Homo sapiens: one gene and its partners. The protein of the gene in region 3 purifies or fractionates together with the protein of the main gene of each other region. This does not show direct contact. Each region holds a gene or a part of one and is shown on either strand. Other genes may lie near its edges.

Evidence for each region. Proteins that work in one complex are often made in the same cells at the same time.
Region 1: the proteins of TOR3A (region 3) and OMA1 purify together in Homo sapiens (affinity purification with mass spectrometry; 3 studies listed by BioGRID and IntAct, with this or other methods). This does not show direct contact.
Region 2: the proteins of TOR3A (region 3) and B3GNT2 purify together in Homo sapiens (affinity purification with mass spectrometry; 2 studies listed by BioGRID and IntAct, with this or other methods). This does not show direct contact.

What each region holds. Positions count from the first base shown.
Region 1 is NC_000001.11:58,529,727-58,537,467, reverse strand, and holds part of OMA1 (metalloendopeptidase OMA1, mitochondrial precursor), read left to right. Parts: intron 1-726; coding exon 727-955; intron 956-3,136; coding exon 3,137-3,310; intron 3,311-3,407; coding exon 3,408-3,515; intron 3,516-6,738; coding exon 6,739-6,867; intron 6,868-7,741. UniProt on the Homo sapiens protein: Metalloprotease that is part of the quality control system in the inner membrane of mitochondria. Activated in response to various mitochondrial stress, leading to the proteolytic cleavage of target proteins, such as OPA1, UQCC3 and DELE1.
Region 2 is NC_000002.12:62,198,374-62,206,114, reverse strand, and holds part of B3GNT2 (N-acetyllactosaminide beta-1,3-N-acetylglucosaminyltransferase 2), read right to left. Parts: intron 290-7,741; exon of another isoform or gene 198-289; intron 1-197. UniProt on the Homo sapiens protein: Beta-1,3-N-acetylglucosaminyltransferase involved in the synthesis of poly-N-acetyllactosamine. Catalyzes the initiation and elongation of poly-N-acetyllactosamine chains. Shows a marked preference for Gal(beta1-4)Glc(NAc)-based acceptors.
Region 3 is NC_000001.11:179,077,105-179,085,627, forward strand, and holds the start of TOR3A (torsin-3A precursor), read left to right. Parts: upstream 1-4,965; 5' UTR 4,966-5,024; coding exon 5,025-5,283; intron 5,284-5,835; coding exon 5,836-5,949; intron 5,950-8,523.

The sequences.
Region 1 (7,741 bases), about 120 Mb from region 3:
GGATCTTGTTATCTCTCCTTTTTCACGTTGTAAAGAGGATAGTGGAGTTTCTGCTACTGAGCACTATTTATTTCCAAAATGAATGCTGAGGCAGTTTCCCTTGTACCTTGTGGAATCACTGGCAAATTGTGTTGGAGGTCTGAGGAGCAGTGGGAAAAGTAGTGGTTCCAGGTATAGATTTATTGTACTGTAACCTCTTACATAATTATTTAGGCATTTATCCCTATTAAGTGGCTAAGTGGTCAGACTCTGGAATGTCATTGCCTTCATTGCTTGGTTTTCCTTTTATTACCTCAGTGGCCATGGACAAGTTACCTAACAATTTTATCTTCTGTAACAGGGTTATTATGAAGATTAAATGAGATGGTATATATATATATACAGAGAGAGAGAGAGAGAGAGAGAATTTTGCATGTACTAGATAGTAATAAATATTAACCAGTGGTAGTTATAGTAAACTAGCATCTCATTTAGTGTTTATCCTTAAAATAGCTGAAGAAGAAAATTTCGATGAGTATTAGAATTTTTTAACTGTAACTTTACATCATTGATTATTTTTTCATCATTTAGCTAAGAATTTTATTAATTGGAAAAGCGATGTATTCAGCGAAATACATCATACAAATTCAGGTATTTGAGGACGTAAAATTCTAGTGTATGCATTTGAGCTTTAGTGATATGTGCTGGAATGATTTTCAGAACTTTGAATTTTTCTTTTTGCTTTAGGGGCATAAGGAAATGGTGGCAGGCACTTCCTCCTAACAAGAAGGAAGTAGTTAAAGAAAATATAAGGAAGAATAAATGGAAGCTATTCCTTGGTTTGAGTAGTTTTGGATTGCTCTTTGTGGTGTTTTATTTTACTCACCTGGAAGTAAGTCCAATCACAGGAAGGAGCAAGCTACTATTATTGGGGAAAGAACAGTTCAGACTTTTATCGGAACTGGAATATGAAGCAGTAAGTAGTAAGAGTTGTTTTTAATTAGACTGCTTAATATAACACTCAAAGTAGGAAAGTATCTTAAATGTGAAAGATATGTTGTTTTTTAATTTTAGTCTTTGATATGAAATTAGCATTTTTTTTTCCCGAAGGCCTCAGACCTTTCACACTTAGTATTCCTACTGCCTACATTGCTTTTCCTAGCATTCACCCAGCTAACTCCTGCTCAGCACATTTCACCTTAAATGTCACTTTTCTCAGGAAAACCTTCCTTGATTATCCAGACTGGGTTAGGCAGGGTGACTGGATCAGGCCCTAGGAGGTATCCTTCATACCGACTGAATTATGAACCAGCTCATTTGTAGTTGCGCCCATTGCTTGGCTTTACTGGGGTTAGGTCTCCTAGGCTTTTTTTCTCTGCATACTGTACTTTTCCTTCAAAGCACTCATGAGAGTAACATAATTATTTGCATAATTATTTTTTTGATTGTCTTTCTTGTTAGACTAAGCTTCATGGGGGCAGGGATCTTACCTGTTTTGTTTATGGTTTTAAATACTAACACAGTATGTAAGAGTAGAGCTTAGTATATATTTATTGAATAAATAGATTTATAGTCAGAATTCTTATACCTTGAAAATCAAGTAATATAAGATTTTTTTCCCAAACATCAGTTTTAGCAATTTATTATATTTTTTGAATCCAAATTTAAGTTATAATTTAGAAGTCTTACCTCTTTGGAAAGTATAGTAACTCAGGTAGTTAAACATTTTGTACCCTAGTGAGTTTCTTAGGGACAGAGGTCATTTTCTCTCCAGTTCATAGCACATACACATGTTATGTGCCCTGTGGCTCAATTAATATTTTTCGAATTCATGTCCAGTAGCCTCACTTGACAGCTTTGGCATGGCTGAATCTTTTTTTTTTTTTTTTTTTTGAGACAGAGACTTGCTCTGTCACCCAGGCTGTACTGCAGTGGTGCCATCTTGGCTCACTGCAACCTCCACCTTACAGGTTCAAATTATTCTCCTGCCTCAGCCTCCCGAGTAGCTGGGACTACAGGCGTGCGCCACCACGCCTGGCCAATTTTTGTATTTTTAGTAGAGATGGGGTTTCATCCGTGTTGGCCAGGATGGTCTTGATCTCCTGACCTCGTGATCTGCCCACCTCCTAAAGTGCTGGGATTACAGGCATGAGCCACCATGCCCAGCCGCTTGTTGATTCTTAAGTGAAAAAAAGCATACACTTTATGAAAGTTAAAGTAATATTTCAGAACATTTTTAATTTTCTCAGTACACTTGAAAGAGCTCTCATGAATATAACTTCAGAAAAAGTATCTTCTGTGGTGGCTAGTCTTAATCAGCATCTTTTAGAGACAGTGATAATGCTCATTAGTTCTGAGAATTCAGTAATTTCCTTTCAATCTGTGAGTAAAACACCTTAAAATTAATGAAATGTCTATTTTGGTAGTTTAACTTTCTTATTAGGTATAGGGTGTTTTTCTGTTCAATGCATTGTGAATTTAATTTTCTTTTGTATTTTACTTAGATGAAATCTTAAGTTCTCCAGGCTCTCCTTTTCTTTTCTTTTTGAGATGGGATCTCCCTCTGTCACCCAGGTTGGTGTTGGAGTGCAGTGGCGAGATCTCAGCTCACTGCAACCTCCACCTCCTAGACTCAAGCGATCCTCCCACTTCAGCCTCCCATGTAGCTGGGAACACAGGTGCATGCCACCACGCCTGGCTAATTTTTTGTGTTTTCGGTAGAGACGGGGTTTCACCATGTTGCCCAGGCTGGTCTTGAACTTCTGAGCTGAGGTGATCCTCCTGCCTTGGCCTCCCCTAGTTCTGGGATTACAGGCGTGAGCCATCTTGCCCTGGCCTAGGCAGTGTTTTCTAAAATGTTTAGGAAAGTAGAAATAATACTTAAGTATTCGTTTGTAGTTTAATCGAAAAGAATGAAATTTTGATGTCAATCTATTCATAAAAAAACTTAGTATTAGAATTTATTCCTTTGTAAGAAACCACATTGTCTTTGCATGAATAATTCAGATTTGAGAAATTTCAGTGCTTAATATATGCAGATTTTTATATAATTAAAACTTAAAATGTTCAATAATAAGTAGCCATATAACTTTCCATGAAGCAGAGTAAGCATTTTGTAGTGCTCTTTTAAAATAAGAAGTAATTTTTAATCTTTCAGTGGATGGAAGAATTTAAAAATGATATGCTAACTGAGAAAGATGCCCGATACCTGGCTGTTAAAGAAGTGCTTTGTCATCTAATTGAATGCAATAAAGATGTTCCAGGGATCTCTCAGATCAATTGGGTTATTCATGTGGTTGATTCCCCAATTATTAATGCCTTCGTGCTTCCAGTAAGTAAATGTTCTCAAACGCATTGTAATTGTTAAATTTATTGTCCTTATTTTTTATGATGTTCTAATTGCTTACATTATTTTCTTTGTGGTGCAGAATGGACAAATGTTTGTTTTCACTGGATTTTTAAATAGTGTAACCGATATTCATCAACTTTCTTTCCTTCTGGGCCATGAAATAGCACATGCAGTACTTGGGCATGCTGTAAGTACCTAAAATGAATGTTCAGGTTTGGAAAAACTGCTTTGAAGTTAACAAGTTAAATCTTTTAAAGAACTGATTTTTTTCAGGTTTTTTAAAAATGATAGACTTTTAGTTTTGGGTAATTGCCTTAATCTGCTACCTGAAAAAAACGTGATTGGCTAATTTTGAGAATTTTTATGGTCTTTAGTATTTGATACTGAATAATATTTTTCTTAAATACTATTTTTATCACCTGTCTCTTTTGCTAAAACGTAATTATTCTCAACCCCTAATTATTTCAAATTAAATTTTAAACTTTCTATAATTATTAATATACTTGTAATCTAGTCAGAAAATTAATTGTAGGGAAGTGATATTACTATTTAAGTGGGTAAATCATCTTTCTTTTTTATTCATTCTCAGAGGATAGCTTGGAGCATCTTTGAAAATGTCTAGAATGATGTGTCATGTGTAATTAATACAGAGTAATAACAATACCTTGCCATTTTACAGTTTACTGAGCTTTTTAGTATATGTGGCTTCCCATTCATAATTTTAATACCCAATGAGGTATGTATTTATTATTACTATTTTATATAAGAGAAAACTAATGTTTAGAAAAACAGTAACATGACTAACCTGACAAAGTAACCGAACTGGGACTTTAACGTGGGTCTTCTGTATGTTAGTCCAGTGTTTCTTCCTTTCACTACAGTTACCTGGTTTTTAGCAGCGCTTTTCTTATAGATCATAGAATTCAAGTTGATGTATGCTCCTGTGAATACATGTCTGTTCATCTTGATATAAGTCCAGGAAAAATAACACATCTGTTTCACACATTTTTTAAATTGTTATTCATTTAAAAATATAAATGGCTCTTTTGTCTACATTAGAGAAAGTATTTTTTAAATTGTAAACGCAAAGGTACATAGTGAAGTGACTGAAATGCTAAATCAGAAATACAAGTAACATTAACTTCAAATGGAAATGATAATGATTCTAATCCTTCTAAGAGTAATCTCAAATTCTACCTGTTCCTTAGACTATTAATAAGATGAGATGGGCTAAATTGTTTTTCTGAAACACTGAAAGTAATTATCTCCTTGATTTCTTTTGAGTTACAGGAAGATTTTAAAAACATTTTTCTTGACTGGGTGCAGTGGCTTATACCTGTAATCCCAGCACTTTGAGAGGCTGAGGCAGGAGTATTGCTTGAGCCCAGGAGTTTGAGACTGGCCTCGGCAACATAGACTCAGTCTGTACAGAAAAATTTTAAAAATTAGCTGAGCATGGTGGCTCACACCTGTAGTTCCAGCTGTTCTGGAGCCTGAGGCAGGAGGATTGCTTGAGCCTGGGAGATCAAGGCTACAGTGAGCCATGATCGCACCACTGCACTCTAGCCTGGGTGACAGAGTGAGACACTGTCTCAAACAAAAAAGTAAGAAAAAAAATCTTTTTTTCTTAAACAAATATACACAAGAATACGTCTAAGCAGTGTTATTATATGCACTCTAATATCTTTCAAGTAATGGCTTCACAACTGCAAAATCAGTTTTGGCCATTTTAGCATTTGAAAGGTGTTACTATTCAGTACATTTGTTTTTTAGGCATCTAGTTCAGTGCCTTATATTCAGTGTATTGTCATCTCTATCAGTGCAAGAACAGTAGTAGATGAGGTGTAAAAAGCAAACAGCAGCCTTAAAAATAGAACATAGTTATTAATATGTTTTTGCAGAGATCTTAAACATTGTCAGCACAATATTTTCTCTTTTGGGAGTCTCAGTTTTGATTTTATCTAGGCGTTTATGTTTTCTTTATTCTACAAATACAGGTTTTTGTGTGTGTATTTCCAGTTTTCTAAGACTGTATAATAGCAATTATATTCTTTAATAACAAGGGCTTTCTCTTCTATAACAACTTCCTTATTTTGAGTTTCACTTTTTCATGTTAAAATAATTTCATAATTGGGCTGGGCACAGTGGCTCACCCCTGTAATCCCAGCACTTTGGGAGGCTGAGGTGGGTGGATCATGAGGTCAGGAGTTCAAGACCAGCCTGGCCAACATGGTGAAACTCCATCTCTGCTAAAAATACAAAAAATAGCTGAGCATGGTGGTGGGTACCTGTAATCACAGGTACTCGGGAGGCTGAGGCAGGAGAAACATTTGAACCTGGAGGCGGAGGTTGCAGTGAGTCGAGACCTCGCCACTGCACTCCAGCTTGGGCAACAGGGCAAGACTCTGTCTCAAAAAAAAAAAGATAAATCCATAATTGTTTTTCAAAACACACATTTGTGTTTTGAGGCAAAGTAATGAGGCAAATATAAGGAGGTAAAGTATGTTTTGTGAGGGTACAATATTTGTTAAGGGACAATATTCTAAGTCAGTTTTTAGTTTTCAGTCATTTTTCATACATTCAAGTAATGACTGCTATTTTATCAGTTTCAGCATTACAACATTAACATTTACTAATCACCTTTAATGGCAAACCATGAACAATCTAGTTCATTAAACTTAGATATTACTACTCAAAACAACTATTTTATGAAAAATCTTTTTTGGTAACTGATATAAGTAAATACAAAAATTCATAGAACCTGATTCTTTCATGATAAATACTAGACTTACAAATTTACAAACTTGTATAAATGAATAATATTTCATATATTAGGTCTTGAAGATCAGAATACTTTTATTTAAAATAAACTTCCAGTCTTTTTCTGAATTTTTTCTTGTTTTAAGTGCTTCATATGTTAGGTAGTGTTTAGTCTTTATCCAAAAATATTAGTAAAATAAAACATTTACTTGATTTTTTAAAATGATGCAACTATATTAAAAACTAAAACTGACCGGGTTTGATTTCTGGTCCTTTTAGTAATAGCTGTGCAAATCTGGGCAACTCTTAACCTCTCTCTATCTCAGTTTCATTATCTATAAATGTAGGGATAATTGTAGCTATTTCACAAGATTATTATGCCTGTTAATATAAGAAATTGTAGGTTTATATCCTCTGACTAATAGTAAGTGGCTTAGTAGATACTAGTTAAATGAATGAATAGGTATATAAGTAGATAAACCAAGGAAGGGAAAAACAGACCCGGAAAGAATAAGCAAAAGAAGAAAAAGAGAACTCTCAGTCTTAGGTGGAGAAGGTCAGGTAATTGTAACACATGATGAACTAGAAAATGTAAGCATATACTGTCTCAATGTATAAAATGTAGTTTTTATTATTTTGATTATTCTTAGGCAGAAAAGGCTGGCATGGTTCATTTGTTGGATTTCCTAGGTATGATTTTCCTCACAATGATTTGGGCCATTTGTCCTCGAGATAGCTTGGCACTTTTGTGCCAGTGGATACAGTCTAAATTGCAGGAGGTAAGTCTGAGACAATAACTTGAATTGATCATAGCCTCTGGTGAAGATATTTTAATACTACTGTAAAGCAGCAAATCCAGAGATGTTTTTACATTTTACTATGAAATATGGGTACGAATTTTTAGTGTCTTATGTTTTCTCGTTTTTAGGGGATATTCTTATATATGAATATTTAAATTAAGGAATACTACATCTCTCAAATGATGGGTATGGAGAGTTAGAAGGGCTTGGCAACTTTTGGCTAATAAAATTTTTGAAAATATATTTATTGGTTTTACAGAGAGAAAACCCAGCCACTGACCCTTCCTTTCGTAGTAACTGAATGACTCCCAAATTCAGCTGTCCCTTGGTATACAGGACTTCTTGTGGATACCAAAATCTGAGTATGCTCAAGTCCTTGATAAAAAATGGCATGGTATTGGCCGGGCGCCGTGGCTCATGCCTGTAATCTCAGCACTTTGGGAGGCCAAGGTGGGTGGATCACGAAGTCAGGAGATTGAGACCATCCTGGCTAACGTGGTGAAACCCTGTCTCTACTAAAAATACAAAAAAATTAGCCTGGCGTTGTGGCGGGCGCCTGTAGTCTCAGCTACTTGGGAGGCTGAGGCAGGAGAATGGCGTGAACCCAGGAGGCAGAGCTTGCTGTGAGCCGAGATTGCGCCACTGCACTCCAGCCTGGGCGACAGAGTGAGACTACATCTCAAAAAAAAATAAAAATAAAAATAAAAGCATGGTGTTTGCATGTAACTATGCACATCCTCTCATATACTTTAAATCATCTCTAGATTACTTGTAATTCAATGTAAATGCTATGTAAATAGTTATTTTACTATATATATTTTTAAGTTGTAGTTTTTTAAATTGTTTTTTCGTA
Region 2 (7,741 bases), on a different chromosome or scaffold from region 3:
TATCCTCCCCACCCATACCTCTTCTCAGCCTGGTTTCTCCTGGCTTAAAACATCCCTTATCTTGCTTCTCTCCATCCTTACCCCCATCCTTGAAGGCCCAGGTTCAAATCCTGTCTCCTCTTCCATGAGGACAGCCTTGATTCCCCCAGTCCATCGATTTCATCCTCTTCTCCTGGCACTCAGGATCCCCCAAAAGGAGTACCAAGCCCTCACCACCTGGAATCCACTCTCCTGGCTACCATGCTTCCCAGGAGAAATGGTTCCAGGTGAGCCAGGAGGCTGGAACTAAGCAGCCTGTCCCTCAGGTGGCAAATGACAGCCAAGGGCTGGCAGGCCCCGCCCACGGCACACAGCCACTAAATGCCAGCGCTCCTCCTCTCACACTGAGCATCCAGTTAAATTGGGCTCCCTCTGGGATGCTGCCTCTTCTCCACAGTCAGACATCATCCTCCTCCCAGAGGAAAACACTTCTAGTGATGTGTGACCCTGGGTGGCAACTTCAGAGCAAGGCGGCAAAGAAGCAAACCAGCTCCCTGCTCCATCTCGGATTCCTGTCCCGCCTCTTCTCCCTTTCTCAAAGGCTGGTTAAATCCTAACACCTTACTGACAAGTGTTTCAGGACTGTTGTTTTCAAGTTGTTGCTTTTTAAGTATCAAAATAAACCATATACATTTTAAAATACGTATCCTCAAAAAAAAGTAACACTTTGGCCTTTTATCCAAATGTTCTATAAAAGGGGAGGCATCATTCAGGCCTTCGACCAAGACTTGCTTCCGTATTTAAAGAAGTGCAATAGTAACATAGCTTTCTCCGGCCACCCGCCAAGAAAAGTTTTTGTCGCCACAGTAAAAAGAGAACATGTTTGCTCAATATGTGGGCACTATTGAACTGCTTAAAAACTGGGCCTCTTTTACCAAGCAATTTGAGTCACCTCAGTTTTAAACGAGTCTCTGCACGTTCCCTTCATATACCATAGGTGATCACATATGTGGAGGGACGAGGGACCACAGCAATCCCAGTGCCACGGGCTTCCAATCTCGCCGGTCTGCCTGTCACTCTCCCTGGGGGCGTCCAATCTTCTCCCCCAGCCTCCGCTATCTCTAAATTGATGGCTGCCCACTCTGTGGTCCATTGTGACCTTCTTCTCTCTCCCTCTCTAGATGGTGCCCATGGGCCCCTAGTCGTGAGTGGGGTAGAGATGAAAATAAAGAATCATCACCCTGAAGCCGCTGGTGGCTACCTGAAGCTTCATGATACCATTCTCTGTATCTGCACTTGTTTGAAAATTTCCATTATAAAGAGTTAAAAAAAGACGATCCATCAGAACTTTGAAGAATAAAAGTTTTTTAAAAAAGAGAAACATTCAGTTAAAAATAGGAGTATTCATGAGAGATATTTTAAGTTCATTTGAAGGAAATAATTCCTTATGTGGTAAAGGAAAAGAACAAAAATATAATGGCTGCATCTCAAGAATAAAGTTACATAAAAGTTCCTTATAAACAAGCTTCAAAGACAACCATAAAATAATAAAGGTAAAAATATATCTCACTAGTTCCAAATGTTGACTATTTAGAAAGGATAGCATTTGTAACACTTCGACCCTTTCATTATTAGACAAATATATTTGAATCTGAAAATATCATTCGGCTTCCCAGTGAACAATCTAGAGCCAGACCTGGAGGGTTAAAAACACACATGCACATAAAACTCACCACAATTGTGTTATTCCCTGATCAAGACTCAAAAAAGAAGTACTTTGGAGAACCAGTTGGATGTTAAGTGCTTCTCAAAGAAAATAAACAATTAGAAAAATTTCTACCAGGCACTTTGGGAGGCCAAGGCAGGTGGATCACCTAAGGTTGGGAGTTCGAGACCAGCCTGACCAGCACGGAGAAACCCTGTCTCTACTAGAAATACAAAATTAGCCAGGCATGGTGGTGCATGCCTGTAATCCCAGCTACTCAGGAGACTGAGGCAGGAGAATTGCTTGAACCCAGGAGAAAGAGGTTGCAGTGAGCCAAGGTCATGCCATTGCGCTCCGGCCTGGGCAACAAGAGGGAAATTCTGTCTCAAAAAAAATTCTGAAGCACAAATAAACTGCAGCAAGTTTATGGTCCATAGAAATATCTTCCCAGAGCATTAACACTTTCATATTCATGAGTTCAATGGATTCCAATAATAAACATGTGAAATTGGCTGTGCAGGTTTCATGCGATTCTGCAGGGAGGTGGGAAACAGGAGCTAAGTGGGTTGCCATAGCTACAAAGACATTTGATGTCAGCTCTGGGACCAAAACCTACTTCAAGTTCTCTACATCAGCCAGTCCCTGACCCCCAACTCCCAGGATCTCCACTCCCTGTGACAGCTCTTGCTGCTTCTGGGGTCTTGCACCAATAGCAATCTCCACTGTTTCCCCCATCTTCAGCCTCTCCCTCTCCAAAGGCACCAGGCACATGCTCCTTGTCATGCCCATTTGTCCTGCCTTGACCCTCCCAATCCCCCTCACCTTCTAGAATCTTCGCAGTCCTTGCACCCTCCTGACTTTCTAGGGCACCCAATACTGCTGGCCACCATGTCTACCCCACCCCAAGCTCAGGAACCCCCAGGGTTCTCTTGCATGTTGGCAGCCTTTGCTCCTTGGCCCCATCCCACAAAATGGACTTGCTCCACAGTTCTGGGCCCAAGTCTATTGCTGGGTCTTCCCTTACCCCCTATTCTTGTCCCCTAGACATCACTACAGACTCCCATATCCCGTATGCTAAAAAATGCCCCAATATACCTGTGTCATGGCCCTTCTCCTAACCTCCCTTAGTTGGTTTCCAAATTCCTTTACACCCACCAGGAGTCTTTCTCTCACCCACCTCTTCCAAACAACACACATACATATTTCAATCTTGTACTATCCCTGCCCTGGTTTGAGCCCTCAGTTTCCCCTCTACTAAGACTAACTTTAATGAAGTGGCCTAACTCAACAAATGTCAAACGCCTACTTAAACCAAGCAGTGTTGAAAACAGGCAGCAAAGAACCAAGTCAGAGTTGATTGCTGTAAGGTTGATAAACACTTAGATGAAATATGAAGCACTGCACAGGGGATAAGGAAAGGCTGCTTTATGCCGGGTGATCAGAGAAAACCTCCTCTCAGAGAAGAGGTGAGGATAGTTCCAGGCAGGGGGAGCAGTCACCACAAAGGCCAGAGGCAGGAAAGCTGGGGGCCTTGTGCCTGGAGTGAAATGAGGGGGAGAAGGGAGGTAGGAGGAGGAGGGCAGATCACCAGTCCTGGTAGGTGACATTTGAACTCTGGCTTTCCTCTGAAGAAGACAGGGATTCTGACTGGAGGATTCTGAGTAGAAAAGTAACCTCAAGTCATTTCAGTTTTTAAAGGATCCCTCCAGCTTCTTTCTGAGAGAAACTGGTAGGGGGCAAATGGGAAGCAGAGAACGCAGGGACTGCAATGACCTGCCCGGGGTCAGGCTCGCCTCATTCACGCTCAGGCCCATCTTCCTCAATGCAAGCCTGGCCATAACTTGTCAGCACCCACACCCTCTCTCTCTCTCCCCTGACCACAAGAACTTTCACTGGTTCCTCACTACCTCCATAACTATTAACTGCCACATCTCTGCATGATCCCCGAGATTGCATCATGGCCTATTACACCTTTCTAAGCACCATGCACTCCAAACCCAATGGATCACCTGCTGTTTCCCCAAAAGACCTCTATGAGCCTTTCTGTTGTGTCCTGTTTTCTCAGCCTACAATCCCTTGAGCACTTCTACCTTCCTTTCTCTGCCTCTGAAATGTTATTCACATCCTTCAAGACCAAGCCCAAAGGCCACTTCCTTAAGAAGCCTTTCTTGGCTGCCTCCAACACATAATTGGCTTACACCTCTACCAAGGCAATCTTACCAGTTCCTGGCTGTCTCCACCACACTGCCCACTGAAGGCAGCAATCACGCACAGCCAAGCACAGTGCTAGGCACACACCAAGTGCTCAATCAATGCGTGTTTGGTCGGAGAACAAACTGCTCACTTCACCAAACATCTTGAGGTCTTAATGGAGAAGTATTCCAGGGCAGGTTTTCCGTGTTGGCTACTGTAATCTGGAGACCAGGGGACCCTCTGATGGAGTCTCTGGGGACTGTCTGCTCAGCACTAACAAAGGTACAAGTAGGGACCACAGTGTGGACAGATTTGAACTTAGGCCTACGAAGACTCTTGCCTTCTCTGCTAGACATCTCTAAGCAGGCCCATATTTTGTTTTAAATTTCCATAAAGTATTGGAAGTATGTTTTTCCTAAGGTCATTCTAGAAGTGTACAAAAGAAGAAATGAGCACTTAGAAGGACCCACATCAAGTTAATGTAGTTATAGTGGTGAGAGAGGGTGGAATTAGTTTTATTTTCCTTTACTTTATCTTGAATACTTTTTCTAAATAAACATTTAATGAAAGTCATTTAGAAAGAATGCCAAGTACTACCCAAGTTACATTTGCAGAATGAGTCCAAAAATGAAAAGTACCAAACAAATAAGGAGACATGAGGCCATGGAATTATGTAATACCGCTTACACGGTAAGATTACAAGAGCTGAAAATGTTTTAAGTGGCTTGTCTGAAGCAAGCAATTAAAATAATTGGTCCTGTGCTTTCACCTCTGAAATAATTATTTCACTAAACATAAAGCAGATGTTGTGAGCATCTTGGGCACTTATTGATGACTCTTACCCAAACTAAACTCTTCCACAAGCTCCATAATTGACCATAAACCAGTTCTCATCACTGCATCCTAGCTCATGTTACACAGGTGGCCAAACAACTCTGAATGGGACATTTCAATGACTGTCTTTAGAGAGGAAATGTCAAAAACAGGCAACTAACAAATAATACATCTTAAAGCTAAAGCTATATCAACAAAGTATTAAATAAAGATTTGTCTTCTAATTTTCAATAAAAGACCTACAGAACTTTTAATGAAATAGCTCATTTAAACACAAAAGATCTAGTTGCTTTAGTTATCACCCTGTTAAAGAAATAAAAAGGGGAAGAGGAAACTGCAGTCAGGCACAGTGCTAGGTATTCTAGGTGTAGCTTTATATTACTTTCCCCAGTAAATCTAACATAGGGCTTTATCTTCCCCATTTTACAAGTGAGAAAATTTATCCTGAAATAGTTCGTGTAATTTTAACTTTAGGCATTCCCATACGTAACTGAGACTCAGATTAAATAACTTGTCCGTAGTCACACAATAAGTGGTAAAAATAGAATTCAAGCCTATTTCACAAAAGACTACATGCCACACTGTATGACTGATTCCACTTACATGAAGTTCAACAGGTAAAACCCATCTATGATGACAGAAGTCACATCTATGATGATGTAAGAAAGAATAACAGTTCCTTCAGGGTGAGGGGGTGGGAACACGGACAAGACATGGGCGCAGGAACCTTCTGCAGTACTGAAAATGTTTATTTCTTAATCTGAGAGCTTACATACATGAGCTCATGCTTAATATTAACACTTCTCACACTTTACTGCATGTTATACATGAAGTTAAAAAAATCCTCATCTTATGGACTCCAAGTTTATGCTCTTAACCACTAAACCACCACATGGCACTCGGACAGAATCTAGCCACATGCCAGAATTGATTACCTTGGATTATCATTTTTTTCAAACATTCTGGTAAGCTACGTACATCCTACTCATATCAGAATGAAGACACCTGAACCCTCTGTTTTAAAATGCCACAGAATGAAAAGTAGAAAGTATCAATTTCCTGGCTACTGGGAATTTCCCCCTCTGTAGCCACATCAGAAAATGGTTTTTGTTTTTTTTAAGTTATAGATGCACAGAAAATAATGTGTAACATTCTTAAAGTTATATATGAAAATACCTAAAGCTAAAATTGCACAAGATACATGTTATGACTCTCAAAAGACATCTGAATTTTTGTTACAAAAATTAAGACAAGGCAAAAAGACAAAGCTGGTGGGCAGAGGTTGTTAATACTCACAGGGCAACACACAGAGGGCAAAAATCTCAACTCTTAAAATTTGTAACAAATAGAAAACTCAGTACAAATAACTTTTTCCAGCAGCAAAGTAATTGTGCCACATAAGCCCTAATAATAAATTCTCCATCAAGTAACAGGTTCCAGCCTGGCAAAGTCTCCTTACCAGTGAGTGATGATGAAATCATTACATCAATTCTCCCAAAACCTTACCCCACACATACATACACCTCTTATTCAAACAGTAATTGCCTCTCCAGAGAGAGGAATGTATTCATTCTGTAATTTGCAGACATATTTGGCAAGTACGTAGGAACAGCAATCCCACCTTAGAGAGTGGAGAAAAAGACAGCTGGGTCCACACCTTTTGGGTGTTTGTGCTGTTTTCTTTACTGGATGCAGCCAGGAAACATTTACCACTTCAGAGTCTAGTTTAATTCATGTTTTAACCTTCTGTACACACCAAAAATACCAAGCAACCAAATGACTTTAGTTTCCCCTGGGCACTTACATAAGAGACCAAAAGGCCTTTATGAGAATCTTTCAGTATTGGTGATGTATGTACCACCATCAGGGATGTTGCAATAGATTACACATCACCAAGTATTATCCTAGTTGCAAGATCTCAAGGTCTCAATGTTTATAAAAGTAACCATAGGCAGTTATTAATTTTTAAAGTCTCTAACAGACTTTCCAATAAAACCATCAAAAAAATACAGAAAAATACAGTCAAATACTACATCCATTAACCAAGTCAGAAAGAATGAAAAGCACTGACCCAGTATGTCAAGAGTATTAACAGCTGTGGATCAGCATCCCTAAATTAGGATTTTCATGAAACCCTAGCATTGCTAGAAAACATTTAAAGCTAAGGCCAGGCGCGGTGGCTTACGTCTGTAATCCCAGCACTTTGGGAGGCCTAGGCGGGTGGATCACCAGGTCAGGAGTTCGAGACCAGCCTGGCCAACACAGTGAAACCCTGTCTCTACTAAAGACACAAAAATTAGCCAGGCGTGGTGGTGGATGCCTGTAATCCCAGCTACTGGGGAGGCTGAGGCAGGAGAATCACTTGAATCCAAGAGGCAGCGGTTGCAGTGAGCTGAGATTGCACCACTGCACTCCAGCCTGGGCGGGAGAGTGAGACTCCATTTCAAAAAAAAAAGAAAAAAACATTTAAAGCTAAGTTTCAAAGTTTGAGAAACAGAAGATTCACCTTTTCTTTTATCCCTGCATCAGCTGAAAAAGCCCTGCATATTTCTCTTCAGAACATACCAACGATGCCTCACTAATGCAACTATTTTTTTTAAAAAAAACCACATATCTGAACAGTATAGTCAAAATCAACTATGAATTATCAGTTCTACTTTCCTATTTTTAGCACAACTTTAGTTTATCAGAAACCTAAAACATGACTTTTCTTTAAAACAAGAAAATTTTCAAAACTACAAACCTTCATATATTCAGCCCTTCACCAGAAGCCCAGAAAAAAATTCATAATTTTTGAACAACAAGCAAATCATGCTTATTTTCCTCAAAATACTACTTAGGTTTTAAGAACCTTCTGATGTGCATCTGCCAAATGTGGCTGATTTCAGTCTCAGACAGGGAAATCTAAAAGGCTACCACAGGGTTACTGTTTTTGGTAAGGGGAAGTCGATGCCAGGAGGAACTTCTCTATTGATTACAGCAATGACCACCATTTATTAAGCACTTCTTAGCTCTCCTGGTGCAGTGCTA
Region 3 (8,523 bases):
TGAGACCAGCCTGGCCAACATGGTGAAACCCCTTCTCTACTAAAAATACAAAATTAGCCAGCTTGGTGCATGCCTGTAATCCCAGCTACTCTGGGGAGGCTGAGGCAGGAGAATCGCTTGAACCCGGGAGGCGGAGAGCTGGGATTGTGCCATTGCACTCCAGCCTGGGCAACAAGAGTGAAACTCAGTCTCAAAAAAAGAAAAAAAAAAAATAGCTGGGTGTGGTGGCAGGCGCCTGTAATCCCGGCTACTCGGAGGCTGAGGCAGGAAAATTGCTTGAACCCAGCAGGCGGAGGTTGCAATGAGCCGAGATCGTGCCATTGCACTCCAGCCTGGGCAACGAGCGAAACTCTGTCTCAAAAAACAAAACAAAACTATTTTATTTGCAGCATATTTGTGCTAGTTTTTGTCATTTGTACATGAATACATGTGGGAGGCTAGTAGAGCCTGGTCTGTGTATCTCACTGACTCACCACATACAAATTCTTTTCCAGGCTAGAGTTCAGGATTCATTTGCTTCTCAAGCATATCAGAACGACTGGTATTAGAGTTTGAAAAAGGTAGCTGGGAGTAGGGAGGGCGGGGCTCTGTTACTGGGTAATTTTACCTAGTATGTTTGCTTATTAGACTGATTTTTAGCAGTCGTCATTTTGTAAAATAGATAGGAATGGTCATAGCCACTGGATTTCCATGGGTAGGGTTTTGTAAGGTAAGTTGCAGTATAAGCCCCAAGGAATAATGGTATTAAATCACAATTTGTGAGATATTTGGTCTGTCATCAGTAGATCTGTGGGCCATTGTGCTGCAAGCTGTGGTATACCATTGAGATGATAGTGACTGTCTTTTCCCTCAAAGAGCCTGCAGTCTAGACCTGGCAGAAAAAAAAAAAAAAAAACTGCTTGTGAGGCACCAAGTCCCTCAGGAATTATATAAATTAATTGCAGTGAGAATAAGAAACGGGAGAGGATCATGGAGGTGGGGATTGGGAGGGATTGGGTTAGGCAGTACCTACATTGAAAAAGTGGAGATTGATCCAGGCTTGACGAGAGGTGTGTATAGAACCCCTGACTCCGGAAATGCAGAACTATTTGCTTAGTGGATACAGGGCCTTCTGGGCCTGTATTTTCAGTATCTGGGTCACCAGAAATATCGCTTCAGGGGTTTCTCATTGTTCTAGGAAATGTTTGTGTGCCCTGTCTCTTGAGGACATTCTCAGTCCACCTCAAGTGCTGTGTAGATGTTAAAGGAACATAGATGAGCTGGGAAACATTCCTGTAATGTTTCTCATGCAGGGTTATTTAAATATGGAGACTTGCGTTTGTTTTGTTTTTGAGACCAAATCTCACTGCAGTGCCCAGGCTGGAGTGCAATGGCGCGATCTTAGCTCACTGCAACCTCCGCTTCCCAGGTTCAAGCAATTCGCCTGCCTCAGCCTCCCGAGTAGCCAGGACTACAGGCGCATGCCACCACGCCCGGCTAATTTTTGTATTTTTAGTAGAGACGGGGTTTCTCCATATTGGCCGGGCTGATTGGTCTCAAACACTTGACCTCAAGTGATCCACCTGCCTTGGCCTCCCAAAGTGCTGGGATTACAGGCGTGAGCCACCGTCCCAGGCCGAGACTTGCTTTTGACCCAGTGTTTCCAAGGCAGATGGTTCTGATTGCCTTCAGTGGGGTTGGGAAGATGTCTGTTGTAAAGCTAGGTCATACTCAGATGACATCAATAAAGGTGTTGTGTGCCAATTTTGCCTTAGGCTTTTTTTTTTTTTTTTGGATTGACAGTCTTGCTTTGACGCAGGCTGGAGTACAATGGCACAATCATCGCTCATTGGCAGCCTCGAACTCCTGAGCTCAAGTGATCCTCCTCCCTCAGCCTCTCAAGTAGCTAGGATTATAGGCGCGCACCACCACACGCAGCTTATTTTTTATTTTTATTTTTGGTAGAGACAAGGGGTCTAGCCTTATTGCCCAGGCTGGTCTGAAACTCTGGCTTCAAGCCACCCTCCTGCCTCAGCCTCCCAAAGTGCTGGGATTACAGGCATGAGCCATGGCTCCCTGCACAGAAAGACCTTCTTAAAGTGCAGGTTTTGATTCAGTATGTCTGGGGCCTGAGATTCTGCATTTCTAACAAGCTCCTGGGTGATGCCAGTGGTGGGGTTCTGGAACCGCCCTTGAGTAGCACCGTAATGCTTGCTAAAGAATCATAGTTGTCTGTAGTTTTCCCAGCAGCCTCTAGATGTCCCCGTCATCCATGAGATACTGCTTCCAGAACTTTAAAACGAGCACAGCCTCCAAGGCCTGAGACGGAAAGGAGTATTTATTGAAATACTCAAGAGACGTATCTAGAAACTGGTGTTTGGATTTATTGTTTCTACACGGGACTGACTCTTTGGTGAAAAAGTGTTTACCTCTTTTTTTTTTTTTTTTGGAAAAAAACGGCCAGGCGCAGTGGCTCACGCCTGTAATCCCAACACTTTGGGAGGCTAAGGCAGGCAGGCAGATCACCTGAGGCCAGGAGTTCGAGACCAGCCTGGCCAACATGGCGAAACCCCGTCTCTACTAAAAATACAAAAAAAAAAAAAAAGCGGGGGCGTGGTGGTGAACGCCTGTAATCCCAGCTACTTGGGAGGCTGAGGGGGAAGAATCGCTTGAACCGGGGAGGCGGAGGTTGCAGTGAGCCGAGATTGCACCACTGCACTCCAGCCTGGGCGACAGAGCAAGACTCCGTCTCTAAATAAATAAATAAATAAATAAATAAATAATAAAAATGTCTTGAAATCAAGTTGGTTGTCGAAGAACTTCCCAGCTAACCTACTTTATTTACAATGGGATGCTAAATCCAAGTCAGAACATCTCAGAAATGAGCAGGTAGCCCTACATAAAAGTTCCAAGTACAGATAATTCTTTCCACAACATCTTAAAACTTGGATTGTTTTAATAAACTATTGTTACTATTAATTTTTTCACCATAAATTCACTTATAAACCACCAGTATTAACTAAAGCCATCCTTGCCTCCTGTGTAGACCACCCAGAGCCTCCTCCATGGCTGGGTAGATACAAAAATAAAACTGGCCACGTATTGAGTGTTGATGATGTGCTCATTGAATGAGCTCATTTAATCTTCACAGCAGCCCTATGAGGGGACTATTTTATTATCCCTTTTTATAGGTGAGGAAACAGGCATGGGACGGTTCAGTAACATCCATGGTTGCACAAATAGAAAATGGTAATCACTATATTAGACTGCCATTCAGACTCAAACGACATTTGTTGAGTGAGTTAATTTTTTTTCTTTTCTCTTTTTTCTTTTTTTTTTTTTTTTGAGATGGAGCCCTGCTCTGTCACCCAGGCTGGAGTGCAGTGGTACCATCTTGGCTCACTGCAACCTCTGCCCCCTGGGTTCAAGCCATTCTCCTGCCTCAGCCTCCTGAGTAGCTGGGATTACAGATGCGCACCATCACACTCAGCTAATTTTTGGATTTTTAGTAGAGACTGGGTTTCACCATGTTGGCCAGGCTGGTCTCGAACTCCTGATCTCAGGTGATCCGCCCGCCTCGGCCTTCTAAAGTGCTAGGATTACAGGCGTGAGCCACCACACCCTGCCTAATTTTTTTTGGTTTTCCAATAAGCACTGTGGTGTATGTGCTGTTAACTGTCTCCGGTGGACTCCGCAAGCTCGATGTACACAGTGCTGGGCTGGTGCCATGGCTGCTACTCTATGAAAAGTTTTTGACATCACACTGAATGGCTGAGACACTATAAACATTTTACTTTTCAACTCAACCTCGTGTCCTAGCAAAGGTGCTTTATCTAGTTTCTGTAGCTGTTCGAATGAAAGGCACAAATTTGGTGAGCTGCTGAGAATGGAGCAGACCTGGCACGGTGTGATCTAAGAGACTGGGGTGAACAGATGAATCAAGTTGCCTGTGACATTTGTGAGACACGGTGCTAGTATTCACCTTACTGTCTGGAGGGCCCAACCTCAAAGCCACTAAACATATGACATTAGCCAAGTCCTCTGATCTCTCTAGACAGCAGTTTTCTCCTAAGACAAGACGGCTTTTTGGCTTGGCTGAAGTAAGCCAGGTGATTTTAAACAATGCATTAAGCTCTTCTGAAATCTAACAGCCTTGTTCCATGCTCCTCGCTATGGAGAAGAGAGCGCTGAGGGAAAGAGGCCCTGTAGTCTTTTGCCAATGGTGTCGGATGGGCTGCTCAGTCCCAGCACTTGAAAGTTGCAAACCTAGTCAAGAAAGTGCACACAGTACTTCGGATTTTTATGAGATATAATTACATTGACATGACGCCTCATGATTTACCCATGACTCGGGGGGTTTCCAAACTCCAAACACCTCCAGACTGGAGCCCGTCAATCAGCTTCCTCTTGCTTTTCGTGGACTCCCACTGTGGAAACCTGCTGGTGTTTTGCTGCGGTTTCATTTCCCTCTGCGGAGGAGCCAGGGCAACCTTGGCCAGACAGGCACCTAGCTGTGCCCTTCTTTCCAGGGCCTCTTCTCCACTCAGCTGACTCCCCTGGCCTGCCTAACGCTCCTGACTGAGACGGTTTTCCGGCTTCCTCTAACAGGTTGGCGGGAAGTTGATCTGCAAACGCGAGGCAAAGCAGGAGTGTCCTTATTCGGTAGGCCTCTGATGGGCCACCAGAGCCGTCCGAAAGTCCTAGCGGAGTGATTGACAGTGGCCATTTCAAAGCCTGAGTTCACCTTCTTTGCAACCACAATCACGACCCAGAATAAACTGCTTCCTGGAAGCCGGCTAGTTGCACCTGGCCTGAAGTCAGTCTCGGGACTGCCTCTCAGGACCCCAGACAGGGTTTCGGGTTCCCGCCTGGGTCACGTGTACGGAGGCTGCCAGTGCGCACTCAGCCCGGCCCGCCGGTCGCCACAGCAACACCAATCCCGGGTTCAAGCCCGCCTAGGAAGTGCGGTCCCCGCCTGACCGCCCCGGGCTTAAGGGAGCCTGGCTAGGCCGGCAGCCGGATGGTCCCGCAGCTCGGGGCCGGCCATGCTTCGCGGTCCGTGGCGCCAGCTTTGGCTCTTTTTCCTGCTGCTGCTCCCGGGCGCGCCTGAGCCCCGCGGCGCCTCCAGGCCGTGGGAGGGAACCGACGAGCCGGGCTCGGCCTGGGCCTGGCCGGGCTTCCAGCGCCTGCAGGAGCAGCTCAGGGCGGCGGGTGCCCTCTCCAAGCGGTACTGGACGCTCTTCAGCTGCCAGGTGTGGCCCGACGACTGTGACGAGGACGAGGAGGCAGCCACGGGGCCCCTGGGTAAGACCCCGTCCCCACGGTCCGCCGTTCGCTGCGGAGCAGAGTGCGATCCGGGCGCGGCTGTGGTCGCCTCGCTCCTGTCCGGGGCGACATCTGGGCCCGCAGTCCTGCTCTGCTCAGCCGCCGGTACCGGCTGTGGGCGGGGGCAGCCTCCGCGGAGCAGGGAGCCCCATCACCGCCCTTGCCCCACCCGCGTCCCCTGCGCACCCCCCTGGCGCCCGGCTTCCCGTCCCCCGCCTCCCCTGATCCCTGCGCTTTCCAGATTCTCTCGCACCGCCTGTGCCATCTCCCAGCCCACCCTGGCGTTATTCGAAGGTGTTGCTCTTGACAGCTCTAGGGAACGTCCGCTGTGGACATGCCTGGTGACTGCCGTCTCCCTTGCTGCTTTTGGACGCAGGGCTTGAGGACCGACAGTGGGCCGAGTCGGGGCTGGGAGTTAGAATCTGAGTTCTGGGTGTCCCTCTGTCCCTGACAAGTTGTGTGGCAAGGTTGCCGCATCACTGTAGAGCACCGGATGGTCTCCTCTCGGTCTCACAGCTCCTCCTTTTCCAGGCTGGCGCCTTCCTCTGTTGGGCCAGCGGTACCTGGACCTCCTGACCACGTGGTACTGCAGCTTCAAAGACTGCTGCCCTAGAGGGGATTGCAGAATCTCCAACAACTTTACAGGTTGGACCCCGCATGGCTTCAAGGGGCTAGGGATCTGTGGGGAGGGGAGGCAGTCCAGGGGAAATGGTTAGATGCAAGGGACCTTTCGTCATCCTGCCCAGCCTCCCGACAAGCAGGAACTGCCACAGTCTGACTGAAGTTTTGAGGGAGTACCAAATGCTTGAGTCAGGGAAGCCCCTTTTTAGCCTCTAGCTTAATAGCCCAGGCAAACTGAGCTGTTTGTCAGGCCCAGAGCACCTTGTTTCACTCTAAACAGAAACAGCTACCTCTCAGAGGGGGCTGGAACTATCCAGAGAGAACTGATCAGAAATTCTGGGTTGTGATTAAAAGTGTCCCTTTCTTTTCTTTTTTTTTTTTGAGACGGAGGCTTGCTCTGTCACCCACACTGGAGTGCAGTGGTGCGATCTCAGCTCACTGCACCCTCCGCCTCCTGGGTTCAAGCAATTTTCCTGCCTCAGCCTCCCGAGTAGCTGGGATTACAGGTGCCTGCCACCACGTCCGGCTAATTTCTGTATTTTTAGTAGAGGCGGGGGGGGGGGGGGGGGGCGGGTTTCACCATGTTGGCCAGGCCGGTCTCGAACTCCTGACCTTGTGATTTGCCTGCCTTGGCCTCCAAGAGTGCTGTGATTACAGGCGTGAGCCACTGTGCCATGGCAACCAGTATTTTCTAATTAGTTTGGGTTGCTTGATTTGCATATCGCAGTTGATTTGCATTTTCACTCTCACAAGGTGATCTTTGGCCCCATGTTCTGAAACCTGTTCAGACATTTGCAAAAGCTTCCTCTCTTTTCCCCAGGAGCAATTTCTTGCCCAGAGTTCTCCTGATCCCAGGTCCTTCAATCTCCATAAATGAGGCCCACCCCAGATATTTAGGTCACTTAATTGGCCAAAATGCCAATAACACAGTGTGTTTAGGGACACAGTCTGGCTCAGGACAGAAGATAGGACTACATACAGGTCAGGAAGTCTTAATTTGGATCACTGCTGACTTGGATAAGACCCTAGGTAGCAATTAGCAAGTTACTTTCTGTCCTCAACATGCCTTTTGTTCGACAAGGGCCTGGATATCCAAATTGTTCTGGCCAGCGGATTGGAGACCCCTCCTAGTCGTGCCTCTTCCTTGCTGGCAAACTGAAGAGTCCTTCCCAAGTGTCCGTTTCCTCAGCTGTATTTTATTTTATTTTTTTTACTTATTTATTTTGAGACCAAGTCAGTCTCTGTCACCTAGGCTGGAGCAATCTCGTCTCACTGCAAACTCTGCCTCCCAGGTTCAAGCGATTCTCTTCCCTCAGCCTCCCGAGTGGCTGGGATTATAGGTGCCCACCACCATGCCCAGCTAATTTTTGTATTTTTAGTAGAGAGGGGGTTCACCATGTTGGCTAGGCTGGTCTCGAACTCCTGACCTCGTGATCCGCCCGCCTCAGCCTCCCCAAGTGCTGGGATTACAGGCGGGAACCACCTCGCCCAGCCAGTTTCCTCAGCTTTAAATGGGAATAATAATGCCTGCCTTGCAGAATTGTGAAGACCAAATGTAAAACACTTAGCCCAGTTCTGAATACAGAGAAAAAAGCAGCAAATGTTAATTTTCTTCTATGTCACTACTACTTTTGGAGCAATGTGTGATGCCCTCAATGTTTTATCATAGACCTTGACCTCCCAAGGCTCCAGAATACCTGCTCTGGGCTGGCTTAAGGTGTTCAACCAATTGATCCTGGATTTGGAATGCTCACCCACAGCTGGCCGCACACCCTGCCTGTCTGCACTGTGGCTCCTGGTAGCGCCATCTCCAAATCCTACAACCTCACGTCTGACAGGAGGAAGTTAGACCTAGCAGAAGGCTTTGCACACTGGAGCTGCTCTCACCAAGTGTTGGCTGAATTGAATGAGAATGAATAAAATCAGGCTTCTCCATAAAACAGGGAGCCCTGAAACCAAGGGATGGGAGCAGCCTCAGGACATGGGGGACAGGGTTCCTCCCTAGACAGGTCTGTGCCAACTGTTCTGGGTATCTGCAGGATCTTTAGGAAGGGTGATTCCACTCTCCCTGAGTCCCATCTTGATTTCCCAAACTCTTCAAAAAGTAGTCCTTGAGGCTGGGCGCAATGGCTCACGCCTGTAATCCCAGCACTTTGGGAGGCCGAGGTGGGCGGATCTCGAGGTCAGGAGTTCAAGACCAGCCTAGCCAACCTGGTGAAACCCGTCTCTACTAAAAATACAAAAATTAGCTGGGTATGGTGGTGGGCACCTGTAATCCCAGCCACTCGGGAGGCTGAGGCAGGAGAATCGCTTGAACCAGGGAGGCGGAGGTTGCAGTGAGCTGAGATTGCGCCACTGCACTCCAGCCTGGTGACAGAGCAAGACTCCATCTCAAAAAAAAAAAAAAAAAGAAAGTAGTCCTTGAATCCCTTCTGCTACAAAGTCTGCCCTCTGGCTTCTTATTCTAAGGCCAAACAGGAGGAGTAACTGATTCCACCCGAGAGAGATTCAGAGTTGCTTGGTTTCTTGGCTGTTGGCTGTTGTGGTGGATGGGCCTGTGTGTGCCTTTTGCTGTGACTACCTCTTTCCTGTCCTTAG